Linked DNA regions of Homo sapiens. The protein of the gene in region 2 interacts with the protein of the main gene of each other region in a biochemical or structural test. Each region holds a gene or a part of one and is shown on either strand. Other genes may lie near its edges.

Region 1 (8,148 bases), on a different chromosome or scaffold from region 2:
TAGAATTTTTCTTTTTCTTTTTTTTTTTTTTTCCAGACAGGGTCTCACTCTGCCCAGGCTGGAATGCAGTGGCATGATCTCAGCTCACTGCAGCCTCAACCTCCCCAGGCTCAAGTGATCCTCCCACCCCAGCCTCCCAAGTAGCTGGGACTAAAGGCACACCCCACCACGCCCGGCTAATTTTTGTATTTTTTTTGTAGAGACGGGGTTCTCGCCATGTTGCCTGGGCTGGTCTCAAACTCCCAGGCTCAAGTGATCCACCAGCCTCAGCCTCCCAAAGTGTTAGGATTACAGGCATGAGCCACCATGCCTGGCTGCAAAACATAATTTCAAGAACACTGTTAAACTGAAATTAAGGTATGCTGAAATTAGATGACAAGTTGAGGTTTTAATTTAAAACCACAAGCAGTTGAGAAATACAGAGTTTATGAACTTAGGGGGAAAATGACATAAAAGCTACCTTACACAGTAGACAATATGAAGCTGTGCAATTAAGAGGAAATTATGTAGCCTAAGTGTTTTTCAAATTTTCATTCACTATTTAAAGCCTACCATACAGTATTTGATAAATTATGATAAATCATTTTATTCAAAGAGCAACACTGATGAACTTTTAAAATGAACCATTTATTAAATCAGACTGTTATTCTTAACAGTTATGTAAGTTACATGTATGTTTAAGTCAGAGTATTTCACATGGAAAAGTTTTTAACTCCTATAGGCAAGCAAAATCATATCACACAATATATAAGTGGGAAGGGGATACTGCTAAACATTCAAATAAGGCAAGTATATAAAAACAATAAAACAATAATGAAAAAATTCAAGCATTCCTTTAAGAGAATTCAACACTACAAGCTAAATGTACTTTCTGAGTGTATTCGTATAATCAAGGCAGTGTTTCTTCTTTTAAAACATCAGGAAATGGAATAAGGCTCATTAGTAGACACAGCTGCCCTCAAGATTTCAATTTCAGTTGCTTTCTTTAAATTAAAATTCACAAAGTACACAATTAAGATATATCAAAAAACTGAATCTGCTACTCTAACAACAGCTGTCCATGCTTAATACTTAGTGGTTTATTTGACCAAATTAGTCTTTTCAGGGGGAAAAAAAAGATAAGCCACTGTAAAACATTTAGTTTGAAATGTATGCTAATATTTTCCTTAGAAATCAAAAGTTATGGAGGAAAAGGGTCATTTATTATAAGGAAAAGAAAGCAAAACACTAGAATGACCAAACATTTTCAAGGAACAAGCACCACAAAGGACATTTGCATTCAGTTTTGTAATATTTATCAATGCATTTTTCTTACTCCAACCAATCTACTTCATCAAATTCTGAATCATCTTCCGAATCACTATATTCAACAGCAATACGGCGAGACAGGATGGTGGCAACATCGTTTTCAATGCGTTCATGCTTAGCTTCCTGTTCACGCTGCTCTTCTACTTTGCGTAGCTGAATACCTGATACAGTGAATCCAAACCATTCATTTAAATCAAAATACTAGATACTAGATATTATTAATATTTCTGGAATAAAATCAAATACACATGAGAAATACTTATAGGAAAATAAAAAGATCAGAAAAGAATGTGAAGAAATCATACTGAGAGAGGCATTAAATCTTTATGTTATCTGTGTTATTAGTTGGTAAAACTTACCAGATATCCCAGTAGGTATCTACAGTTTATTTATCCATCATGGTCTACTATACCTCCCTGCTCACCACCCCCTAAAAAATTAATGAGGTGGTACATTTCTTCTATCACCTCAATGGTCAAATAAATTAAACATTGTTGAATATATTTTCTGTGGCTTCATTATCCATTGTATTTGAGGGAAAGGCACTATTATTCATTCTATATGCTCAGTGCCTGGCCTATAGTCATTGCTTAGGAAATAATGACAATAAATGAATGAATATGAGAAGTCTTTCCTTTGTTACTAAGGGAGGAAACTCACTCCTCTAAAGGCATCTGGTAGAGCAAGTGTCATGGATACCCAAAATGAACAGCCTTAACATTGAAGAAAATACCATTTTTAAAGGAGTTAATATACACATTAAGCATAATATAAAGGGTTTTAATTAAATGTTCTATAACATTTAAGTCTGATATATTAAATTTCTCATTCACTCAATAAACATTTTAAGGATACCTACAAAGCATGAAAATAAAATGGTCAAATGTGATATATTTTCTGGAAAATAATTTTAAATATAAGTTGGATATAGCTTTACTTTCTAAAGGCCATTTGTACACAAACATGATCACCTAAAATTTTATAGATAAGGAACACATTTTTGTCTTAAATATTTAGAAAGTTTCCAATGCTACTATAGCAATGCTTTTCATGGAGCTGAGAAAATTACCTTTTCGTATTGCTTCCAGTAGCACACTCCTGGCATCACTGATTACAGGTAGGGTTGATGGATGGCGCTTTGGCTCAGAAGCAGGTATAACTTGTGATGGAGGAGATGGAGGCATTAATGGAACATGGGGACCTGGGGCAGTAGATGGAGTTGGATGTAGCCCAGAGGGAGGATGAGCAAGAGCTGTAACTGTGACAGGTGATGATGGTCGAATGCCAGGTGGAGGCAGAGGAGGCGGTGGTGGGGGTGGAGGCAGCCCCTGAACTTCACCTTGTGGGAGTGGATGAACTGGTACAGTCTCACATACTGGGGCAGCTCTAGCTACTGGTGGAGAGGGCTGTACTAGAGGAGGTGCAATTGGAGGAGGAGCTGGGTGAAGAACTCCAGGGGCAATCTGAAGAGGAGCTGGAGGTGGTGGTACTGCTGGAGCTTGCAAAGCAGTGGCTGGAGGTGGAGGTGGGGGAGGTACTGGAGGGGGAGGAGTTGAAGTCATTGAAGCTCTTAATGAGGAAGTTGACAAGGCAGATGGAAGAGGTGGTGGAGGAGGTGGGGGAGTGGGGCTCACAAACACAGGTGTTCTGCCTGTAGCTGGTGACTGAGGGCGATTTTCTATCAAACCTGTAGCAGAACTGAAATGACAAAGAGATTCTAGCAAGTTATTAAAAGAGAAAAGCCTAAAGAGAAAATCTAACCACACAAACTATAAATGACTATCAGTAATTATATCAAAATGGATCCAATAACATGCTCCTATAGAAATTTAACATCTTCAACAGTATTTAGAAAAAAAAAAAGAACTAAAAGCACATCAATAAAAAAATTAATGAGTGGTGCTTTGGTTTGTAATAGTCTAAATAGTCTCATTCTCTCATGCAACTTTGGCATCCACTCAGATATTTTATGCTTACTTTAATAAATAAAATGCTCAATTCTATACTGACAGGAGTCTCTATAATGACTCAACATTGATCATAATGCAATTTTGTGGCAATACATGTGGCCAATACAATGCTATATTTATACTGAAACTATGAAGTCTCATCATATGCTATTTCAGTTAAATCAATGACAGCTAATTACAAACCACAAAAAGAAATTTACAGCTCTCTCTTTTCCTGAGGATGGAACACCAAATGAGTCAGTGATAGAAAATTGGATTTTTAACTGAAAATTGTAAAGCTGATCTCTATATCTCTATTAGAAAATTTCCCTAATATTTCTCTATTAGAAATTTATCATTTGGATAATAACTGACAAGATTAAACTTCAAAATAGCTTTACTGAAAGATTATTATAAGCAACTGCCAATCCTCTCTGAAATTCTTTAAGTATTTTCCTTAATACCAAATTAGTATTAATAATCACATCTTTGGTTCCCATTTCTTAGACTGTTACCCACATTCCAAAAAATCCTTAATTTTTCTTAATACACTGCACATGATATGCTTGATAACAACACTATAATAAAATGAAACAGGCTTTAATCTTTAAATTCTTATTAGCTAAATTTTCCTAGGAGAGTGTGTCAGCTCTAACCAGAAGATTACAAATAATGTCCCACAGACCAAATCTGACCTGCTCCCTGTTTTTATAAATAGAGTTTATTTCAACACAGACACATTCATTTGTTTATGTATATTCTATGGTGGCTTTCATGCAACAATGGCAGAATTGAGTACTTGTGACAAAAACTGTAAGGCCCGAAAGCCAAAAATACTTACTATATCGTCCTTGAAAGAAAAAGCTTACTGACTCCTAAGATAAAACATCATATGCTTGTTCCAACATACCTGATACAGGTGGGTATCGGTTTTGCATCTCCTGCTCCATGCATTGGTGGAGGTGGAGGTGGTTCATGTGGTCTGACTAATACCCTTTCCTCAGCTCTAGTCAGAAGCTCACTCATCTGACTAAATGGCAAGGCAGAAAGTGAGTAAGATCCATCCATATGATCCACGTATGTCTGAGGTCTAAAAGAAATATATAGTATCAGTGAATTATTCTTGAATTATTGGGAGGAAAGGGTTCTACATGAGATATTAAATATTTAAAGTTTATCCTTTCAATGCCAATATTTTAACTATTTTTAAGAAACTTTCAGAAATGTATTATATTAATCCTGCTTTTAAAACAAAGAATGCTGCTCACAATATAACCCTTACTTGTTGATTTAGAGATCTACTATGATGACCATCGGTTATTTTATTATTTTATAACAGAATACTAATTCAACTCACAGGATGAAAAGCATTACGTACGTAATTTAATAAACAAGAAAATAATTAACTTTTAGCAAATTGTGTGGAAAGCTATCTGCCTCTATTTAGTTCTTTACAAGAAGATGCCAATGACAGAAAGGTAGAATAGGAAAATGAGTTTTCTACTACTAGTATATCTCGGTGTGCTCTTAAACTTAAATGACTTCTAAAAGTCTTGCACCAGAGAGAAAGGCCTCCCAGATACTAGCAGCACAGAGGTGGCTAGCTATATTGTTTCTGTCCTTCTGCTGTTTTCAAAGGTGCAAGGGTACTCAGAAAATAGCTGAGTAACATAGCAACATGTGACTTAGATGTAAGCAAAATTTTAGATAACTCGAACATGTTAAGATTTATAAATATTTGCTAGTACATTCTTGGGAAAAAGTTGGATTTAACAGATGTGCACACAGCAAGTCAGAAATTATTGTATTTAGTGAGTCAGATAAGTACCTTAATTACTCAACTGTAGTAGAAATAAATGTCTAAAGTTTATTAATTTTTTAATGTCAATTCTTTCAGTAATACAGATAAATAGTATCTCTCAGATGTATATTTCTCCTAAAATAGGTCAAGATGTTGCACACTTATGGCCCAATCATTTATATGTATATTACTTAAAAGAAAACCTTAAGCTCTTTTCCATTAAAAAATCATATGACTAGGCTGGGCACAGTGGCTCACACATGCAATCCCAGCACTTTGGGAGGCTGAGACAGGCAGATCACTTGAGGTCATGAGTTCAAGATCAGCCCGGCCAACATGGTGAGACCCCATCTCTACTAAAAATACAAAAATTAGCTGGGCGTGGTGGCGTGTGCCTGTAATCCCAGCTACTTGGGAGGCTGAGGTGGGAGAATCGCTTGAACCCAGGAGGCAGAGGTTGCAGTGAGCTGAGAGCACACCACTGCACTCCACCCTGGGCGATAGAGCAAGATTCTGTCTCAAAACAAACAAACAAACGTATGACTATACCCAAATAAGTGTCTTCGTAGACAGATGCCAGTTTAATGTGTTTGCTGGTAGTATGTTATTTAGTTAGGGCCCCTGGCCACTAAGAAAGGAAAAAATCTTTTCTACAAAAGGGATCAATACTTTTGTTTGAAAGTCCTAATATATCTGAGGTGGGCAATGTGGCAAAGAAAGGAAGTCAGGGGAAAGTAAAAGGAACAAAACAGAACCCCTTCTTCACTCCTATTTTATATGCAATAAATCAACAGTATTTCAAAAAAACCCCAGACCCTAAACTTTTATTACAAAATTCTAGCAGACTGTGCCTGAAATATCGAGAGGCTATTGAGACGTCACACTAAAGCTAAAACCCTAAAGATCAGCCACTCCAACCACTTCTTTCTAAGATGACAAAACTAAGGTCCAGGTATGAAAATGACCTGCTCAAGGCCTGACTTTAGTAGGCTCACAGTGGTCAGGATTTTGAAATAATCTCTATATTTATAACAGGGTCTGCCTGTTCAACAGTTTAGGACTCAAGACTTAGAAGTACAGATACTACAAATAAAGCCAATGTTTTATCATTTAAAAAAAAAAACAAAAGTAAAGAAACCTTGTTTCAAAATGAGAGGCTGGGCCATTAGCAACTTCAATATGCTTATGTAAGAGATTAGCATCATCTTCAGCCAGCTCTGGACCTTGGGCCAGCTTCTGCCATTCTCGCCGCCTGTCATGAGGTGCTCTTGGCACTTTTTCTGGTTCATGAGGACGATCTAGATTTTTCTGCTATAACAGATGTATTGAAACAAAGTCAAATGCTTAAGCGCTAATTTTTAAAAAGGAGGTTATAACAATCAAATTAAACTCTAACATCAACACTGAAAAAGACAATGTCATCATAATATAGTAAAAGTAACACAGAAATGGTTTACTTGTACATTCAGTTAAATCTTAGCCAGTCTGCTGTAATCCCAGTTTCCTGCCATGTTTTGTTTAACCCCTAATTTGAACTGATGCACCAGACACAAAACAGTATGCCTAAAGAATACAATTTGAGGTCAGAAAGTCTTTCAGATGAAAAAAGACTCATGAACCCTTGCTCCACAGGCATTAGTTTGAAATTTCTACGATGAATGGCATTGTCTGCCCCTAATCAAAACGTAACAATTTACTAAGGTTATGTTATCTGGGAAGTAACTGATTAGCTAGCCAACACATTAGAAAAAAATCCAATTATCTAATTAACCGATAATAACTATATCACTCAACAGAAAACATTGTCTTTAAACAATAAAACAAAAAGTGATTCAAAACTGGGGGAGAAAGTACAGAAAGGGCTAGAGTAAGTGTAACAAATTCAAACGCCCAAAGCGGCCAAGCGGATAACATACATGAATGAAGCCAGTCGGGTGTAAGATGGGGCATGAGGTGAGCTAGACAGACATGTCCATCTCAGGCACTCTAGTTCCAAAATTTAAAAACCTCTGTGTTTGGCAAACAAAACACTCCCTACAGGCATAATCTGGCTTGCCAGTCACCAATTTGCAAATGTTAGCTAGAACACTGGGTTACCATCTAGCAAAGAAGACAATACAATGGCATTATACAGGGATTAGGGAAAGCAGAGATAGCTACAGGAGAACCAGAGAGATGATAAAGACAGAATTTGCCTCCTTCATAATTCAACCTAAATCTAACTTTGCTTCATCCTTCTGTGTTTTCAGTTATCATTAACATGAAATATAAAGCAGATACAAGTGAATTTTATTAGAAAGTGGAAAATGACAATAACAGAAATTTCATGTGAATATAATAACCTCTCCAAAACATTTAGGAGAGAAATGTTTAGGATGTGCTCTGTAGCAACAAAATACTAGCTTAATCTACGTTACCAATATCTGTACAAGATTCCATTGCTCCTTACCAAAATGTTCCTCTCTTCCTTGGTACACCTAACTCCTATCTGTTCTTCAAGATTCATTATAAGCTTTGTGGGAAGGGTTTACCCTGCCTGCTAGCTAAAGCAGATGCTATTTTGTGTTATCTAAACCCTTTATGCATACCTCTGCTATGGCACTTATTATGCCCTACTCTAATAATCTAATTGCTCATCTGCTCCCCATCAGACTGTGTTCTTTCTGTGGAGTTATAAAGACTTCAGTATTTAACTATATGGACCCAATAAAATAAAACTGTCAAAATACAAGATTAATGAAGTTCAATATATGCAACAAAACACAAATATACAAAAATTAACCTCAATTTTTTAATCTCTTGTAATACCTTCTGCTTCCTCTTTTCCTTCCTCTTATCCTCTGTATCTTGCAACATTTTTTCTTTCCATAGATCAAAGAAATACGAAGGATTGGTATAAAACTTCAGACCTTCTTTACCATCATCTCTGAAATATAAAATATCAATTAAAACACACATTAGTAAGACTTAGGCAATCAGAATAGAAATAATTTCACTAAAATGTTTATCCTCTTACATTAATAAAATACAGCATGTTAAAATAGTGCCAAAATAAAACTGAATATTGCACCAATAGAAAATTTCTCACAA
Region 2 (8,148 bases):
GGCTGAAGGAATCAAGGGGAAATGGGTGGTGACTGTTAATAGTTACAGGGTTCCTTTGTAGGGTGATGAAAATGTTCTAAAATTGTGGGGACGGATGGACTTTGTGAATATACTAAAAATCAATGAACTGTACACTCTAAAGAAGTGAATTGTATGGTATATGAATTTTATCTTAAGCTATCGTTAAACAATGGCAGTTATTACTAAAACCATTATGACATATCATGAGGGTGAAAGTGGTGGAGGACCAGGAGTCTAATCCAAAGGTAGTCACCCTGAGGATGTAATCTTTAACAGACATTGCCTGATGCATTAAACACTGGAGTGAGAATAAAAAAAAAAAAAAGTTCAAAATAATGTAAATCCTTAAGTGATATTCATTATAATATAAAAATTACTTTAAAAGATAAACCTTTCTCTATATACCCATTTAATAATAAACAGTATGAATTCTAGTAGTCATTTTGAATTCATTAGGCATAATTTTTTTAAAACTTGATGTATCATTAAGAACTGAAGCACAACGGCCTTGGAAGAAAAATGTTATTTCTGACAATCTAATTTGATGCATTTTTCTTAATATGCTTTATTAAGTACAAACCATAAAGCATCTACTAAAGTTCAGGTACTTAAAACTAACTGTTATACAGTTACCCTGTACACCAGTCTGAAATCTGTTAATTATGAATAAAAGAGGTCATCAAATGGCTAACACACATCCAACTGGAAAACAGAATGAAAGCCATTAATATACTTCCATTCCAGATATTGCAATTTGTAATTTTCTTAATTGCAGTACAAACCTACAGTAAAAGAAACATTTTGAATTGTTTATAAAAGTTTTAAACGGTGAGCAAAACATAGCTATAACTGGACAAATGGCCAAATTATAGTGCAGCATTTAAAGTTTTTTAAAAGTAACATTAATTCGTATAATTTAACTTTGCCAGATGTGTTATTTCATGTTCTGTTCAGTAACTGTAAAATAGCCTTACCACAGGAATGACATGAGTGACACCATCTCCACTGTCTATTACCGTACCGGTCAACGTCCGTTCTCCTACTTGTCTTGAGGTCCAAGATGCAGCTAAGGCAAGAACAGCCTTGAGCACAAAGAAAGAAGAAAGGCAAAAAAACAAAAAAAAAAAACAAAAAAACAAAGAGTTAATCGAAAAAAAAAAAACTAGTTCCCTGGAGTACTTTATTCAATTTTAAATGTAGTATCTGTGGAAAGAAAATACATAAAATTAATTTTGTATTATGCAATAAAATAGCTCACTCCCTACATTTTATTAAGACAAACTTAGAGGTTTACATTTGCTTTTAGGAGCATGATTTGTAAGATTTACATATTTTATAAAGGCTATTTCTGTCCTAAAGCTAAAAATGTGGAAGATTGCATTAAACAGTACAGAACTAACTGTCTGTAATCCCAGCACTTTGGGAGGCCGAGGCGGGCAGATCACGAGGTCAGGAGATCGAGACCTTCCTGGCTAACACGGGGAAACCCCGTCTCTACTAAAAAATACAAAAACTTAGCCAGGTGCGGTGGCGGGCGCCTGTAGTCCCAGCTACTCAGGAGGCTGAGGCAGGAGAATGGCGTGAACCCGGGAGGCGGAGCTTGCAATGAGCCGAGATCATGCCACTGTACTCCAGACTGAGCGACAGAGCAAGACTCCATCTCAAAAAAAAAAAAAAAAAAAATTGTATAGAACTAACTTGCCAGAACTTAAACTATGTCCACGTGGGCTGGCCTGTTACAAACTGCAATGTAAGGCAGAAAGTACACAACCACCCTACCTCCAGTTATTCAATACATATATGGCTATAAACAACTATTACTAAAAGATTACCTTCTTTTTCTTTTTTTCTTTGAGACAGAGTTTCTTTCTGTCACCCAGGCTGGAATGCAGTGGCACGATCTCGGCTCACCGCAATCTCCGCCTCTTGGGTTCAAGCAATTCTCTGCCTCAGCCTCCGGAGTAGCTGGGATTACAGGTGCCCACCACCACACCCGGCTAATTTTTGTATTTTCAGTAGAGACGGGGTTTCACCATCTCAGCCAGGCTGATCTTGAACTCCTGACCTTGTGATTCACCTGCCTCAGCCTGCCAAAGTGCTGGGATTATAGGCATGAGCCACTGTGCCAGGCCTACCTTCAAATTTTTTTAAGGTAACATGTGTTTAGGACTATATGACATACAGAAAACGCCATCGCACACCTCCAAATACTACTATGATTTAATTATGGAGCAACGTTGATAAAATTTTTCTATGAAAAACCTTGGTACAGACAATACAACACAATTCTTTTTTAAGTGTGAGAATTAAGAAATTAACATAGTTCATTTTTTAAAAAACTAAATTTCTTACAATCCAAGCCTCAAACAAAGTATATGACTAGTAATTAAAAACAACTAAACTTATACTGGACTTATTTTACCTACCTGGACTGTAATAGCTAAAAGGGACCTAGAAAGCTATCTAGGTCACCCTCCTATCTGAACACAAGATCATATTAACACAATCACCACATAATCACTATAGGCTAACAGAACTATACATTATTTTTTGACAATCTTAAAATGAAAAATTCCATCCTAATACTAGTTATATATATATATACTGTTTAGACTTCATTATGAGATATCCTTCCTCTATAAGTAAGTTCAAAACTATCATCTACAACCAAGAATTATCTCTGATCACTTTTACAAGTCTTTTGTAAACAGTTACGGTCCCAAACTAGAATAGATATGTATCAGCACATCATGTTACAGAAATGTTATTGACTACTGAACATCAACAAAACAGAACAGAGATTAAATAATGAAATTAAGAGCACTCAGAGGCCACTAAGGAAATCACTGAAAAACCAAATTACGACTCCAGAGGAATGAAACAAAGCTCATGATGCCAGTGTTTTAAAGTAAGCTTTACCTGACAATATGGTTAAACATAAGTTTATTATATTTAACATAGGATGAGAAGCAAAAACTCCCAAGTGAAAGATGAATTTTCCCAACTCCTCATTTTATTCATATTCTAAGAACTAAAAAAGGGCCTCCCACTCAAGACTGAATTCTTCTATAAAGTTCATGACAGGTTTAAGTGACTCCTTAAATATTTTTAGCAGCAGAGAATTTAAAAGGCAGTTCATTAAATTTATGGATTGCATTAAACATTAAAAAGTTCTTTGCTATCCAAGTTAAAATATTCATCCATAATTATCACTTATTGATTCTGTGTACCGTGGAGTTACAAAAACCAGTGTGATCCCAAGAAAGAGCAAAGTCAGACAGACCTCAGCTGCCTGGTATCACAGCTAACCATTTAATTATGAATAAAGTGCCTTCCAGCTTTAGTTTTCTTCCTCCACAAAAAACAGAAACAAAAATATCTACATTTAATAGAAATAATGAATTAATACACATATAAAGCATTTGTGTTATGTCAGGGATTACCTCTGCTACAAGGGAAAAAAAAAAAAAATGAGGTCAGCTCTGATCCTGAGGGGTGGGAGAGAAGCTGTTCCATACAGATAAACGTACAAATTAAGAGAAGTGAAATATTAGGGTGTCAAATATACCTAAAGATAAGTCAATCAAAAAAGACTACAATAAAGGACAAAAAGATTTATAAGGATAAATGATAAAGGATTATTTACAAGGATAAATATATATACAATGTTCTTGTCACAGAGAAAGCATTCCATAAATATTAGTTCCTTCATTTCTGTCCTATGAAAGCCCTTGAAATACCCAAACACCACTAACTTACTTTTTTAACACTTCTCTTTTCCTGACTAAATATCTCCACTTCCCATAATATTACTTCTAAATTAACAATTCAGGAGAGAAGTATAACATGCTTTGACATTATGTTTAAACCTTTGCAGAAAAAAAAAAAAAGTACGTATTTTAGGCAGCAAATTAAACTAGGTTAAAATGTAAGAATCAAACTTAGAAAGTATGAACTTGCTTACCTGCACAGCAATGTACAAGCCTGGAACATTGAAGGACTCAAACATTATTTCAGCAGTATATTCCCTGTTTTCTGGAGTATTCAATGGAGGTTCAGTCTATTGAAATAAATAACATTTTAAATAGATAATATCAGATTATTTTGATAACTTTCTTGACAATTTTTAAATGAGAAGTAATTTATTTCAAACATTTTATTTAAAATGCATTAAATTTACAAGTAGAAAGACAGACACAGAGATCAAAGGAAAACTATAGAGAATTCAAACATCCATACATATATGAAAACAGTATGGTAATTCACATTTTAAAAAAAAAATACCCTGAATGCCTATATCATACCACTTATACAGATTAAACATTAAAAAGAAATGAAGCAGGGAGAGAGAGGGTTGGAGGTAGGGAAAAGGTGGTCCAGTCAAATCATCCTTTAAATATGGTAATGACAAACCTCCAGAAAAAACATCAATGGTATTTGCCAGTGGGAGAGCCCTCATCTAAGTAATGCTTTTAGATGAATGTCCCCGAAGTATATAGGATTACAGTAAACAAGCCGAGATTCTACAGATCTAATGGTACAGCTTTCTGAAAAATGTTATATTAATTTACCTGTTAAGAGCATAGAATCAAGATGTTTGCAGAGCACTCTTCTGTTTATGTGACTGTATACATCACTTAGAAACCTCACAGGTTAAGTCTGGGACAGAACACACTCTAAAGAGGCAAGGAAGGACTCAGAGATCTGGCAGTCTTGGACTTCATATTTCACCTATGCCTCATGATCACTTAAACTGTTTCAATTTTTAAAGATTAACACTGGGTAAGACCTCTGATTCTTGTGAGTCTGACTGGCAATCTAATAGGTATCTCAAATACTTAAATGTAAAAGAAAAATTTTTAAATTTAAAAAAGACACAGAATTCTCTTTTTGACCTTAAGGTAGGAATAACTCCTTAAATTTCTGAAGTACAAATCACAAAGGGAAAAAGTGATAAAACTTGAATCCATTAAAAATTAAATATTTTTAAAATTATTATTTCAAAAGAAATATAAAGCAAAACAACTAAGTATACTGTTACCTTACATAAAACCTTTATAAGCTAAACTCCCTGTGGTGTTTAAACTTCTTTAGAAGAGTTCTGGAGCTATGTTTAAAAGTCTGGAGATAATTTACTGATGAATACATACAAAATTAAGTAAACTAAAAACCAAGGCAGTGAAATTATAAACTCCAAGAAAAAAAATCTACATAAAAGATAATCAGAGGACCCCACAAAGGAAAATATACAAATAGCTAATAATAACAATCGTACATGAAAGACTGCTCAACATAATTATCAGAAAATGAAAATTAAAATTAAAAGCAAATGAAAAATCGTACACACCCACCAGAACGGCTAAAATTTTAAAGACTGACAAGCTAGCAGCGCAGTGGCTCACATCTATAATCCCAGCACTTTGGGAGGCCGAGGTGGGCAGATTACTTGAGACTAGAAGTTCAAGACCAGCCTGGCCAACATGGCAAAATCCTGTCTCTACTAAAATTACAAAAGTTAGCCAGGTGTGGTGGTGCATGCCTGTAATCCCAGCTACTCAGGAGGCTGAGGCACAAGAATCCCTTAAACCTGGGAGGCGGGGAGGTTTCAGTGAGCCAAGATCACACCACTGCACTCCAGCCTGGGTGACAGAGCAAGACTGTCTCAAAAAAAAAGTATAAAAGATTGATAAGCCAAATCTTGAATAGAGCAAGCAGATTACTAATGCATCACTGGGGGGTGTGCAAAAAGGTTCACCATCTTGGGAAAAGTTCCCATGAGTTTCCCTAAAAAACCAATCAGGTACCTACCCTATGACGCTGCAATTCCATACTTACGTATTTAGACAAGAGAAATGAAAACATATGTCCACAAAAAGTCTTGTAGAAGAAGGTTCACAATGGTCAAATTATTTTATTATAACCAAAAACTAGAACTAAGCCAGGCATGGTGGCAGCACTTTGAGAGGCCATGGCGGGAGGATCACTTGGAGCCCAGGAGTTCAAGACCAGCCTGGGTGACAAAGTGAGACTCCATCTCTAAACCAGAACACATTACCCAGGTGTGGTGGCCCGGGCCTGTGTGTCCTAGCTACTCAGGAATCTGAGCTGGGAGAACTGTTTGAGCTGGGAGGTCAACACTGCAATGAGCCATGATTGATCCACTGCATTCCAGCCTGAGCAACAGAGCAAAACCCTGTCTTAAAAAAACAAAAACAAAAACAAAAAAAAAACAAAAATAGCCCAGGTATTCATCAACAGGAAAATGGATAAAGTGAGGCAAATTTATACAATGGAATACTACCCAGCAACAAAAAGCAACAAATCACCAGTATATGCAACATAATTCAATCTCCAGATTATGCTAAGTAAAAGTGTTTCACCAAAATGCACATATTGCATGATTCCATTATTTGACACTCAAACATGGGCAAAGCTAATCTCAGATGAAAAAGAAACAGTGGTTGTCACTAGGGCACGGGGGCAGAGATTAATTACAAAAGGGCATGAGAAAACTTTCCACGCTGATAGTAATTTCTCTATATCTTGGTAAGAGTTTAGGTTACACAGATGTATGTAACTGACAAAGATTGGACAAATCACATCATGCATCCTGCAGGTCAAATACAGCCCACCACCTGTTTTGGTAAAAAAAAAAAATTTATTGGAACACAGACATACCTATGAATTTAAGTATTGTCTATGGCTGCTAACATGCTACAACAGCACAGCTGAGTAGCTGTGACAGGGACCATTGTATAAAAAGTTCTCATTAAGTTTCCTCAGGGACTATAACCCCTGCAAAGCCAAAAATATTTGCTATCTGCTCCCTTAGAAAGTTTGCCAAACCCTGGTCAAAATCCACTGAATGGTGCAGACCGGTGATTTTATGATATGTAAATTTTATATGAAAAGAATAACCATACACAAATGATAGCTCTAGTTGATGAAATACGTGCTAAAGTATTTAGGGGTCAAATGACTCCCATTTGCAACTCACTTTGAAGTGATTTAAAAACTAAAATGAAGTGAAAGATGGATAGACGTCATGAAGCAATTATAGCCAAATGTTAAGGTTAATCATCGAATCTAGATTGTGGGTGTATGAGTGTCCATAGTATGGTTCTTTCAACTTTATAGTCCATCACAATCACCGAAAGACACAGAATATTGATTTAACCAAAAATTGTGATGTAACTACAATGCGAGGAGTGGGAAAGGATAGGTATTTTGTGTTGAGGGAGAGAAAAGGTAAAAAGGGAAATTCTCATTTTTCCTATTAGGAAGTTGGTAAATAATGTATAATATTCTTAAAGACAGAAGAAATAAAAAAAAAATGTTAAATAAAAGAAACATGTTAAAAGATTACTAGCAGGGCAAACTTTGTTAAAATTGAAAATGTTTGCCTCCGGGGAATATGAACCAAAGGTTGGGAGAGGTAAGAAAGGAAAGTGTTATTTTGTTGTTTTAAATCTTATAAAGTCATTTGATTTTTTAAGTTATGAACATGCACTGCTTTAATAAAAAGATGTTTAATAAAAAGTTAGATTATATTGTATTTTTGTTATGAAGAAATACCAATGATATAATAATCAGACTATTGTTTTTTAAGCAAAAAAGTGCCACAGGTTTCCAACATTTTTCTGAACATTACTTACTGTTTCTATCATAAAGATTAGACATTAACTACCAAAAGCACTTCTTAAGTGTTTAACATGTGGTGCTTTGACATACTACTATTCTCCTGTAGCCATAACTAGATGGTCTTAAAGATGATACAGCTTTATTACAAAGTCATTTAGACATATGACAATTTAATAACCAAAGTATACCAAAGAAGTATGATGAAAATGTTCTCATTAAGTGTATTCAAAAATTTCCTCAGTGAAATTATAACTTGTAACTTACCAAAAGAAAATAATGGTCTTCAGGTTCTGCCCTTAAATATTTAAAGATCACTTGCTCCATAAACCTTTCCATTAAGTCCCAATCTTCAACTATACCATGGCGGATTGGCCACTATTAAAACAAAAAGGGAAATACAAATTAAATCTTATTAATATAAAAAACAAATAAAAATACAAAAAAGGAAATATCAGATCATTAGTGGATATTAGATGAGGATATATT
Region 3 (8,148 bases), on a different chromosome or scaffold from region 2:
GAAGCTGTCATTCTTGAGTTTCCCCATGGGTCCCTGGTATTGCCCACGTGGGAACAACAGGAAGGGTGGAGGTGAGGGCACAGCACTGTACTACAGCTGCAGGGCTGATCAAGGGAATCTCATGAGGTGCTTTTTATCATTTAATGTGCCAACAACAGGAGGACAACCATGTGCTTCTAGAACAGGGTGAAGGCCCTCCTCACGGGAGTGATCCCTAATCTGGCCCCAGCACCGTGAAAGGTGAATAGCTGTCAATATCTACTTTCACCTAAACCTAAGCTTTTAAAATTCTGACCAAGTGGTGAAAGGTGCCATCTAAAGTGCTCTCTGTTGCTCGCTGAGGAGCTAAGAACTCCTGCGGCTCACTCAGGACACAGGTGTCAGGAAACTAAAGGAGCAGGGCTCCTTTGCAGCCCAGGCCCTGTGCCGCAGCTCTGCCCAGCTCAGCGGTGTAGCTCCCAGAGTCATGGACTGCTCGCATCTGTTCTGGCCGGCTGGTGCCCACACTGGAGAGACTGGCAAGTATCTTGAGTGTCATCCCCAATGGCCCCAGGAAGGAAAATGGACTCTGTTCTTCACTTTCATTACTGTTGAGCTGCTGAATTCTCTTGCAAAAACCATCAACAGGCATTTACTAAGCAAATGCCCACAGGGAACCCAGCCTGAAAAGGGCCCTTCCAATTTCATATTTGACAGGCATGTGCAGAGGTAATGAAATTATTCAGCAGAGCATCAGATTCACTCAGAGGCTACCAAGCCAAGAAACTGAAAGCAGAAACACTGGATTCTCCCTGTTTGTTGAACCTTTCCCTCTAAAACCAACTTATTCAGAAACACATCCTTTAAAAAAACAAAAGGAAAAACCAAAGCGGTGAAACAATATCACTTACTGGTTGGAAGACATCACTCTGACATAGTCATTAGTCTTGCAGAGACCTAACACCAGGCAGCTTCACAAACACACAGCAAGTCTGCAGAGTTATATTGATCAGTAAGAGTAAACCCAAACTGCACTAAATACTCTCATGGCCAAGAGGAAAGCAGATGCTGTTTTCAGGACAATGTGATAGTGACAGCCTATTTCCTCATGTGCAGCACAATTTGCTATGTTTAGTGGCACTTAAGTATTACACAGTAAATACTGAAAAGACCCAGAATTTTTGGATGTGCAGAAGCAATATCACATTGTTTATACAAAAGGTGCTATGCTACGGGATTAGAATACCACTATTTGGGTGTAGAGACCACTTAAAATCTTCAACACGCTCCCACACGCGGCCTCTCCGCCGGCCTTTGCTCAGTCGGACCAGTCGTTCTCGTCGAACTCTGAGTCGTCGTCAGAGTCGCTGTACTCCACGGCAATGCGCCGGGACAGGATCGTGGCCACGTCATTCCCCACTGGCTCCCGCTTGGCCTCCTGCTCCCGCTGCTCCTGCACCTTTTTCAGTTGAATTCCTGCAGACACAACACGTGGTTCAGAATCACATCCTTTTGCTGGCTCCAAATTAAAGATAAACGAACAAATATGTCTATTGGACTTTTTTTTCTACTGACACTAAGGACAGAAAGTTTTAGAAATTTGAGGGGAGAAAAGCTCAGGGAATATTAAAAGTTTCATGAGAAAAAACATGCATTCAAAGTGAGAAGTTTTTTTGTAACAAAGTAATGTGTTAAAATATTAAAAATTCCTAATTTCAGTGTACCTGAACACCATTAGAGAAAACTGTGGAGCTGCACCATCCCAGACAGCAGCCACTAGGCACATATAGCCTTAAAAGCATGAACTGACATGTGGCTAGTGGCTACTCTCTGGGACGCTGCAGGCTGGAGCATTTCTATCACCACAGGACATCTACTAGGCAGCAACAGCATCCAGAGCCTTGGAAACAGTGTTCTATGCTACTCACTCTCAGCTAACCCAAGAAGTAACTGAGAAACCTTTATTTCAACAATTACTGTGGAAACAAACATAAAATACAATCATCTACTTTCTAGCTTAGTAACAAAGTAAGATATTTGATGATTTAATGTTTATCCATTTTTTTTTTTTTTTTTGAGATTGGGTCTCACTCTGTGACCCAGGCTGGAGTGCAGTGTTACGATCATGGCTCACTGCAGCCTCGACCTCCTGGGCTCAAGCAATCCTCCCACCTCAGCCTCCTGAGTAGCTGGAACCACCGGCGCACGCCACCATGCACGGTTAAATTTTGTATTTTCTTTTTTGTAGAGATAGAGTCTTGCAATGTTGCCCAAGATGGTATCCATTCATTTTTTAACTGTTTTGAAATAATTTCAGATTTACAGAACAGCTATGAGACCAGCAGAAAAACATTCCCATATACTTGGATTCCCCAACTGCTAACATCTGACCACATTTATTTCCCAATCTTCCCCTATCATCTTTACACAGACAGACACAGACACTTTTCTCTGGACCATTTGAGAGTGAATGGCATATAATGTCCCTTTACCCCTAAAATAGTTCATGTGTTACCGCCCCCGCCTCGCCCACCCAAAATATCAAAATCACAAAATTAGTTTGGATACACTACTACTATCTATCCTACAAATATTATTCAAATTTTGCAAAAAGACCCAATCTAATTGCAAATGGAAAAGATTATCCCCTGGTTCAGAATCCAGTGGAAATTATCCGTGACATTGGTTGTCAATTTTGTTAATGTCCTTTAATCTGGATAGTTCTTCACAGTCTTTGTGTTTTACAACCTTCTCGTTTTTGAAGAATATAGGAAGCTATTTTGCAGAATGTCTGTCGATTTGGGTGTATCAGATGTTTCCTCGAGATTAGATACAGATTATGTATCTACTCTTGGTAGACAGGGCTTATAAGGTGTTAAAAAAAAAAAAGGCAAATCCAACACCGTCCTACAATGACCCCGAACTTGATATTCATGAGCTAATATACCTCTAGGACTTTTTTATCTTGACAAAATAAAAGTGTGTCAATGATGTCCAGGTACACAGAGGACCCTGGGGTCTTTAGAAGGGTGCGTGGGCCACACTGTGGGCCTGGTTCATGGGCACACAAGAAAAACGCAGAGGCAGCAGCATCACAGCTCCTCTGAAGGACATCCCTGATGCTGAGCTGGCGGGCTGCAGCCAGGCTCCTTGCTTGGTCACTTCCAGATGAGATGACTAAACTGTGACCAAGTCTGTGCAGCTCCCCACAGGCGAGAAGCTCTTGGATATTCCCATAACATGTCAGGGACCCTCGACCAACCTGGGTTGGGACCTGGTTAAGAATCCATGGTGTGGGCTGGAGGTTCCCAGGGGCTCTCTGGGCAGCCCAAGACAGGCGAGGGCAGACTCCCCACCCAATTCCACCTGAGATGCTCTGTTTCCATGTGTTTTGTGGTCAGGGGGTCAACGCGGGACTTTCATCTGACAAAAGGGTTATGCTGTTGAATATTATAGATTCTGAAAAACCACTGGCTTAGGACATCAAGCAAATATGACAAGTCCAGCACAAACTCTTTTTTTTTTTTAAAGAAATCATTAATATGAGCTCACTTTCTTTCATTTATACTTTTCCCCTTAGAGCAGAATGCAGAGAAGAGATCCAATTAATTAATCGATCACTTCAGTTATTGGGTTTCTGGTTTCAAGGTAAGTAAAAACTTCCTAATTTCAATTCTTTTTTTTTTTTTGAGACGGGTCTCGCTCTGTCGCCTAGGCTGGAGTGCAGGGGCGTGACCACGGCTCACTGCAGCCTTGACCTCCCACACTCAAGCAATCCTCCCACCTCAGCCTCCTGAGTAGCTGGGACTACAGGCTCAGGCCAACATGCTCAGCTAATTTTTTTTTGCATTTTTTGTAGGGATAGAGTTTTGCCATGTTGCCCAGGCTGCTCTCAAACTCCTGGGCTCAAGCAATCCAACTGCCTTGGCCTCCCAAAGTGCTGGGATTACAGGCATGAGCCCACCGCGCCCGGCTGTTTCCCAATCTTTATCACAATTTGATTACCTTACACTGGACAAAAACACAACTACTATTCAAAACAAAACAAAAAAATCAAGTAAGACCCCTTTAACTCTATTTTAAAAAACGTAGTGAGTAGTCATTTGAAGACAAGGAGGCTGTAGCTGGCTGGAGACATGAAGAAACCTCTTGCTGAAAGGCAGGCTGTGTGTCTGGGGGCTCCACTTACCCATTCGAATAGCAGCGAGGAGGTCGCTTCGAGCATCACTGATTGGTGGCTGTGCAGGCTCTTGCCGCTTCGCCTCAGCTACTGGGGGGCCATGCATTGGGGAGGACGAAAGAGAAGACCCGGGACCAGGAGGGCCTGGCGGGGGAGGTGGTGGGCCCGGGGGTGGCGGGGCTGTGACCAGGAGCCCGGTGGAGGGTGGGTGAGGAGGAGCTGCGTGCGTGGAGCTGGCTGATGCAGGGAACGGGGGCTGCATGGGCATCTGGAGAGGGCTGACGAAGGCAGTTTGTGCTGAGGGAATCACAGGAGGAGGTGGCGGAGGAGGTGGTCCGGATGGGTTGTAATACTCAATTATCTGCGCTGGGAGCATCCTGAGAGAGATATGAGGCACATAGTCACCAAGGGAACAAGAGAGGGTCACGTCCTGGGAGCTCTTAGACACCTAACGGAGCCATCCCCAGACACAACACGTATTGTCACCTGAACTTCAATCATGGCAGGATGCAAACATGCACACCTTGGGTCAGTTATTTTCACAGTTTGACATTATTCATTATGACAGAAGTCAAGATCTGCTACTGAAATGTGCCAAAAGGAGGACCACTCAAAAAGTGCAGCACTTCCTGAAGAAAGGCAGAATAAAGCAGCTGACTGCAGAGGCCAGGACGGCAGCGCCAGTGAAGGCTTCACACTGGGATCTCAAGGCGGTAGCTCACAAACTTGTCTTTTAAGGGTCCTAAGGTCAACCAGATTGGGAGCTTTCTACATTCTCTAACCCACCTCCGTGGAAATGCCCCATGCCTGCAGTGCCCAGGTGTGTATCAAAAGCTTCGAAAAGTCACACAGCCAAGAAATCTGCTGAATTCTATTCAGCCGAGGGTCTTCCAAACTAACTGGACCATGGGCCCTCTCTTGGCCTGACACAGCCTCAAGCCACTCTGGGGATCCTGACTTGGCATGCATGGCCAGGGAGAGCACTTCTGAGAGCAGGATTGTCATTCAGACAGGGGTGTGCAGACACGTGTTAGCAGTGGACACCAACACACGGTAATTTTCCTGGGCACCAACTCTGAGGAATGAAGTCTTTAAAGACTAGAGTAAAGCCAAAAAAAAGAGAGGTGGGTGCCTAAATTGATAAACGCCTGAACATGAAGTCTCTGAATTCTACTTCTCAGGGAACAGGAGGGCCTGGGGCAGAATGATGTCTGGGTGGTCAGAGGTCACGAAAGCAGATTTTGGTCAAGTCTGAGAAATGAGGCACAGGAGCTGCATGGTGTGGTCTTCTCGTCTGTGATAACAATTTTCTGTGGTCCACTCAGGATGTGTCCAGAAACTTGAGGGTTTGGGACAGGTTCACAAAATCAGCACTTAATACCCTTTATCAATGCCTTGGCTTAAAGAGCCATTCAAACACCCAGAGTGTGTGTGAGGGAACACACATGCATGCACAGTGTGGCCTGAGACTCAACTGTAAGTCTGAGCTTATGCTGCACCTGCTTTATTTCACACAGAATGTTAGAGTTGCTAGTATCTACATCCAGTCATCCTTGACTCTATCTTGGCCTCTAAAATACCGGAGTTAAAATTCTCCTACCACATAGAGCAAGATTCAAATGCAAGGCCAGGAGGGATTAGGGTACAAGGCATGCTGAGTTACCCGTAGTCTGCTGGAGCCATCGGTGCAGAGGCCTGGGACCCCTCTGGGGCCTGAGGGGGAGGCGGGGGGGGCGGCTGCTGAGGTCTGTTGAGGGCCATGTGCCTCGCCGAGGCAGATGGGGGCCGGTACTCATGCTCCGCAGCCTGGCTTGCAGGCCCGTGTGGTGGCACGTCACCAGCTGCATAGGAAGGGGTCACAGGCTGGGGGTGCAGAGAATGGTTGGGAGTAGCCGGGTAAGAGTAATCCGTAACGTCCGATGCATGTGACCTGGCATTTGAAAACAAGAGGTGGGAGAAATTTAAATTAATTTAAAAATTGTCGGCTAACAGGCACATGGATGTATTTGAATAATAACATTGCTAATACACAAAAATCAGACATTAATTTGCTTTACTATCAACTAGGTATAGCCCCGTGAGAGATTCCAAGCAACAACATAATTATTATAAGTCGGCAGCAAGCCCCAGTGTTACATGGATTCAGATTCACAGCTTTGAAGTGAATAAGTCAGACAGACCGGCAAGCAGGAAACAGCAGAGCCTCCTTTTCACAGTATTTCAGCATACGTTTTCTCTAAGAAGGCTATGAAAGAAACCATTCCATTTAGAAACAGGATATAAGACAGAAGATTTCAGTGGCAATGAAACTGACAGCATATAATTAGAAAATATAAAATGGCAGGTTAACTGGATAAATATTAACAGTAAGAACAGGAAAAGAAATCGAGAATGCAGTAGAGTGAATCATATTTTTCTTAAACAGAAGAAATGTACTTAACAAAAAGGGCAGAAAGCAATGCGGTGCACTATGGAAAGGCCTTCTTTCCATAGTTTTCTTTGCACACAAACTGGGTGTGAAACTCCGAAAGGAAAGGGATCTTGGATTAGTGGAGCAGAGCTGAGACATGGGGTGCAGGGACGGGATTCCTGCTAAGCCCTCAGGAGGAGAGGAAGGACCCAAGTGTGGCAGCCCGGCAGTGCCGTGGGCGTTAGTAAGACAGTCACACGCTCCTGGCTCAGGTTACAGGACATGTGGCCAGGAGGGGCTGTACATCCTCTCATGGCGGCAGAAGCAGGGGCAGTCTGAGTCTGGGAACCCAAAGAAAGCAAAACAACAAACCCGCTGGGCACTCTGTCCTCTTTGGCGCTCCCTGCCTGCTCCAGTTTCTTTGCGTCACTCATAAACTCAATGCCCATTTTCCTTCTCTCCCACTCTTCTTTTCTTGTTCTGACTTTTCTCACATTTACTTGCTGGTTTCTGTTAGGGTTCAGCTTGTGTTTCTCTCTCTGAAGGAAATACCAAACACACATTGGGGGTGCTGAGGGAGCAGGGAAGATGCACGCTGCATTTCCATCTTTGGGATTCCAGTTGGTAGCTTTTCTTAACTGGGGCACCATGTGGCACAGAAAAGCCTTCCAAATGAGAAGAGACAGCTTCTTTTCCTTTTTCCTTCCTTAATTGAAGTGTAACAACTAATAACTACTCATTATTTTCTTCCCTAATTGCAGTATGAATTCTGGATTATGGTGCACTTCTGATTATGTCTTTTGAACTAGGTGAGCTGCTAGCAAATGACTTAAAAATATATTTAATGGGGGAAGGACCTGACCTGTATTTAGATTTAGAGTATTTTAAAAATGTAAATTCCTATAACCCTTGGAGACACTGATGATGTGTGCTTGACTCTGCGCATGACTACGAGTCACTGGCTTACAGTGCAACCTTTTAAAGGAAACAGAGTTCTCCAGCCAAACATGGACAGCTTTCTGATGAGATGAGGGTAGGAAACTATAAATACTGTGGCATAACTAGGAGGGCGATCCCTATCAAGGAGCCTTGCAACACAGGGTAGAAAGGAAGCAAGGAAAAGGGGCTAACCAGATGGAGGCAGAAGTGAAGGAAGACTCGATAAATATCTGAAGTAGAAACCAGAGATTTCTACAGGGCAGAACCCTGATGAAGGGTGCCCATCAGGAGGACGGGGGCTGGGGGAAGAGGGGACTGGTCAGTTGAAGAGGGAAGGACCACAGAAAAGGGATGTGCCAGCAGGCAGGAGGAGGAGGAGGGAGGAGCAGGCAGCTGTTGGAGATGAGCCCCACTCCCAGTGGGGAGGCAGAAACCAGCTGCAGACGCACGGCCAAGGTGGAGGTGAGTGGAGATCCCGAGGCCTCATGATGGTCAGTGATCACCTATTACAGAAGAGAGGACTGGGAGGGCCAGAGGCGACACTGACACGGGAGGAAGAGGACTGGGAGGGCCGGGGACGATGGGAGGAGGAGGGCCGGGAGGGCCGGAGATGACACCGACACGGGAGGAGGAGGAAGAG

Evidence for each region.
Region 1: the proteins of ACTR3 (region 2) and WASF1 form a complex in vitro, tested with the Homo sapiens proteins (one study listed by BioGRID).
Region 3: the proteins of ACTR3 (region 2) and WASF3 form a complex in vitro, tested with the Homo sapiens proteins (one study listed by BioGRID).

What each region holds. Positions count from the first base shown.
Region 1 is NC_000006.12:110,099,211-110,107,358, forward strand, and holds the end of WASF1 (actin-binding protein WASF1), read right to left. Parts: intron 7,985-8,148; coding exon 7,867-7,984; intron 6,370-7,866; coding exon 6,197-6,369; intron 4,348-6,196; coding exon 4,168-4,347; intron 3,007-4,167; coding exon 2,378-3,006; intron 1,470-2,377; coding exon 1,312-1,469; 3' UTR 609-1,311; downstream 1-608.
Region 2 is NC_000002.12:113,927,234-113,935,381, reverse strand, and holds part of ACTR3 (actin-related protein 3), read right to left. Parts: intron 8,038-8,148; coding exon 7,927-8,037; intron 4,082-7,926; coding exon 3,986-4,081; intron 1,104-3,985; coding exon 996-1,103; intron 1-995. UniProt on the Homo sapiens protein: ATP-binding component of the Arp2/3 complex, a multiprotein complex that mediates actin polymerization upon stimulation by nucleation-promoting factor (NPF).
Region 3 is NC_000013.11:26,678,995-26,687,142, reverse strand, and holds part of WASF3 (actin-binding protein WASF3), read right to left. Parts: exon of another isoform or gene 7,109-8,148; coding exon of another isoform or gene 6,942-7,108; exon of another isoform or gene 6,090-6,941; coding exon 5,823-6,089; exon of another isoform or gene 4,728-5,822; intron 4,537-4,727; coding exon 4,169-4,536; intron 3,628-4,168; exon of another isoform or gene 3,560-3,627; intron 1,456-3,559; coding exon 1,298-1,455; 3' UTR 1-1,297. UniProt on the Homo sapiens protein: Downstream effector molecules involved in the transmission of signals from tyrosine kinase receptors and small GTPases to the actin cytoskeleton. Plays a role in the regulation of cell morphology and cytoskeletal organization.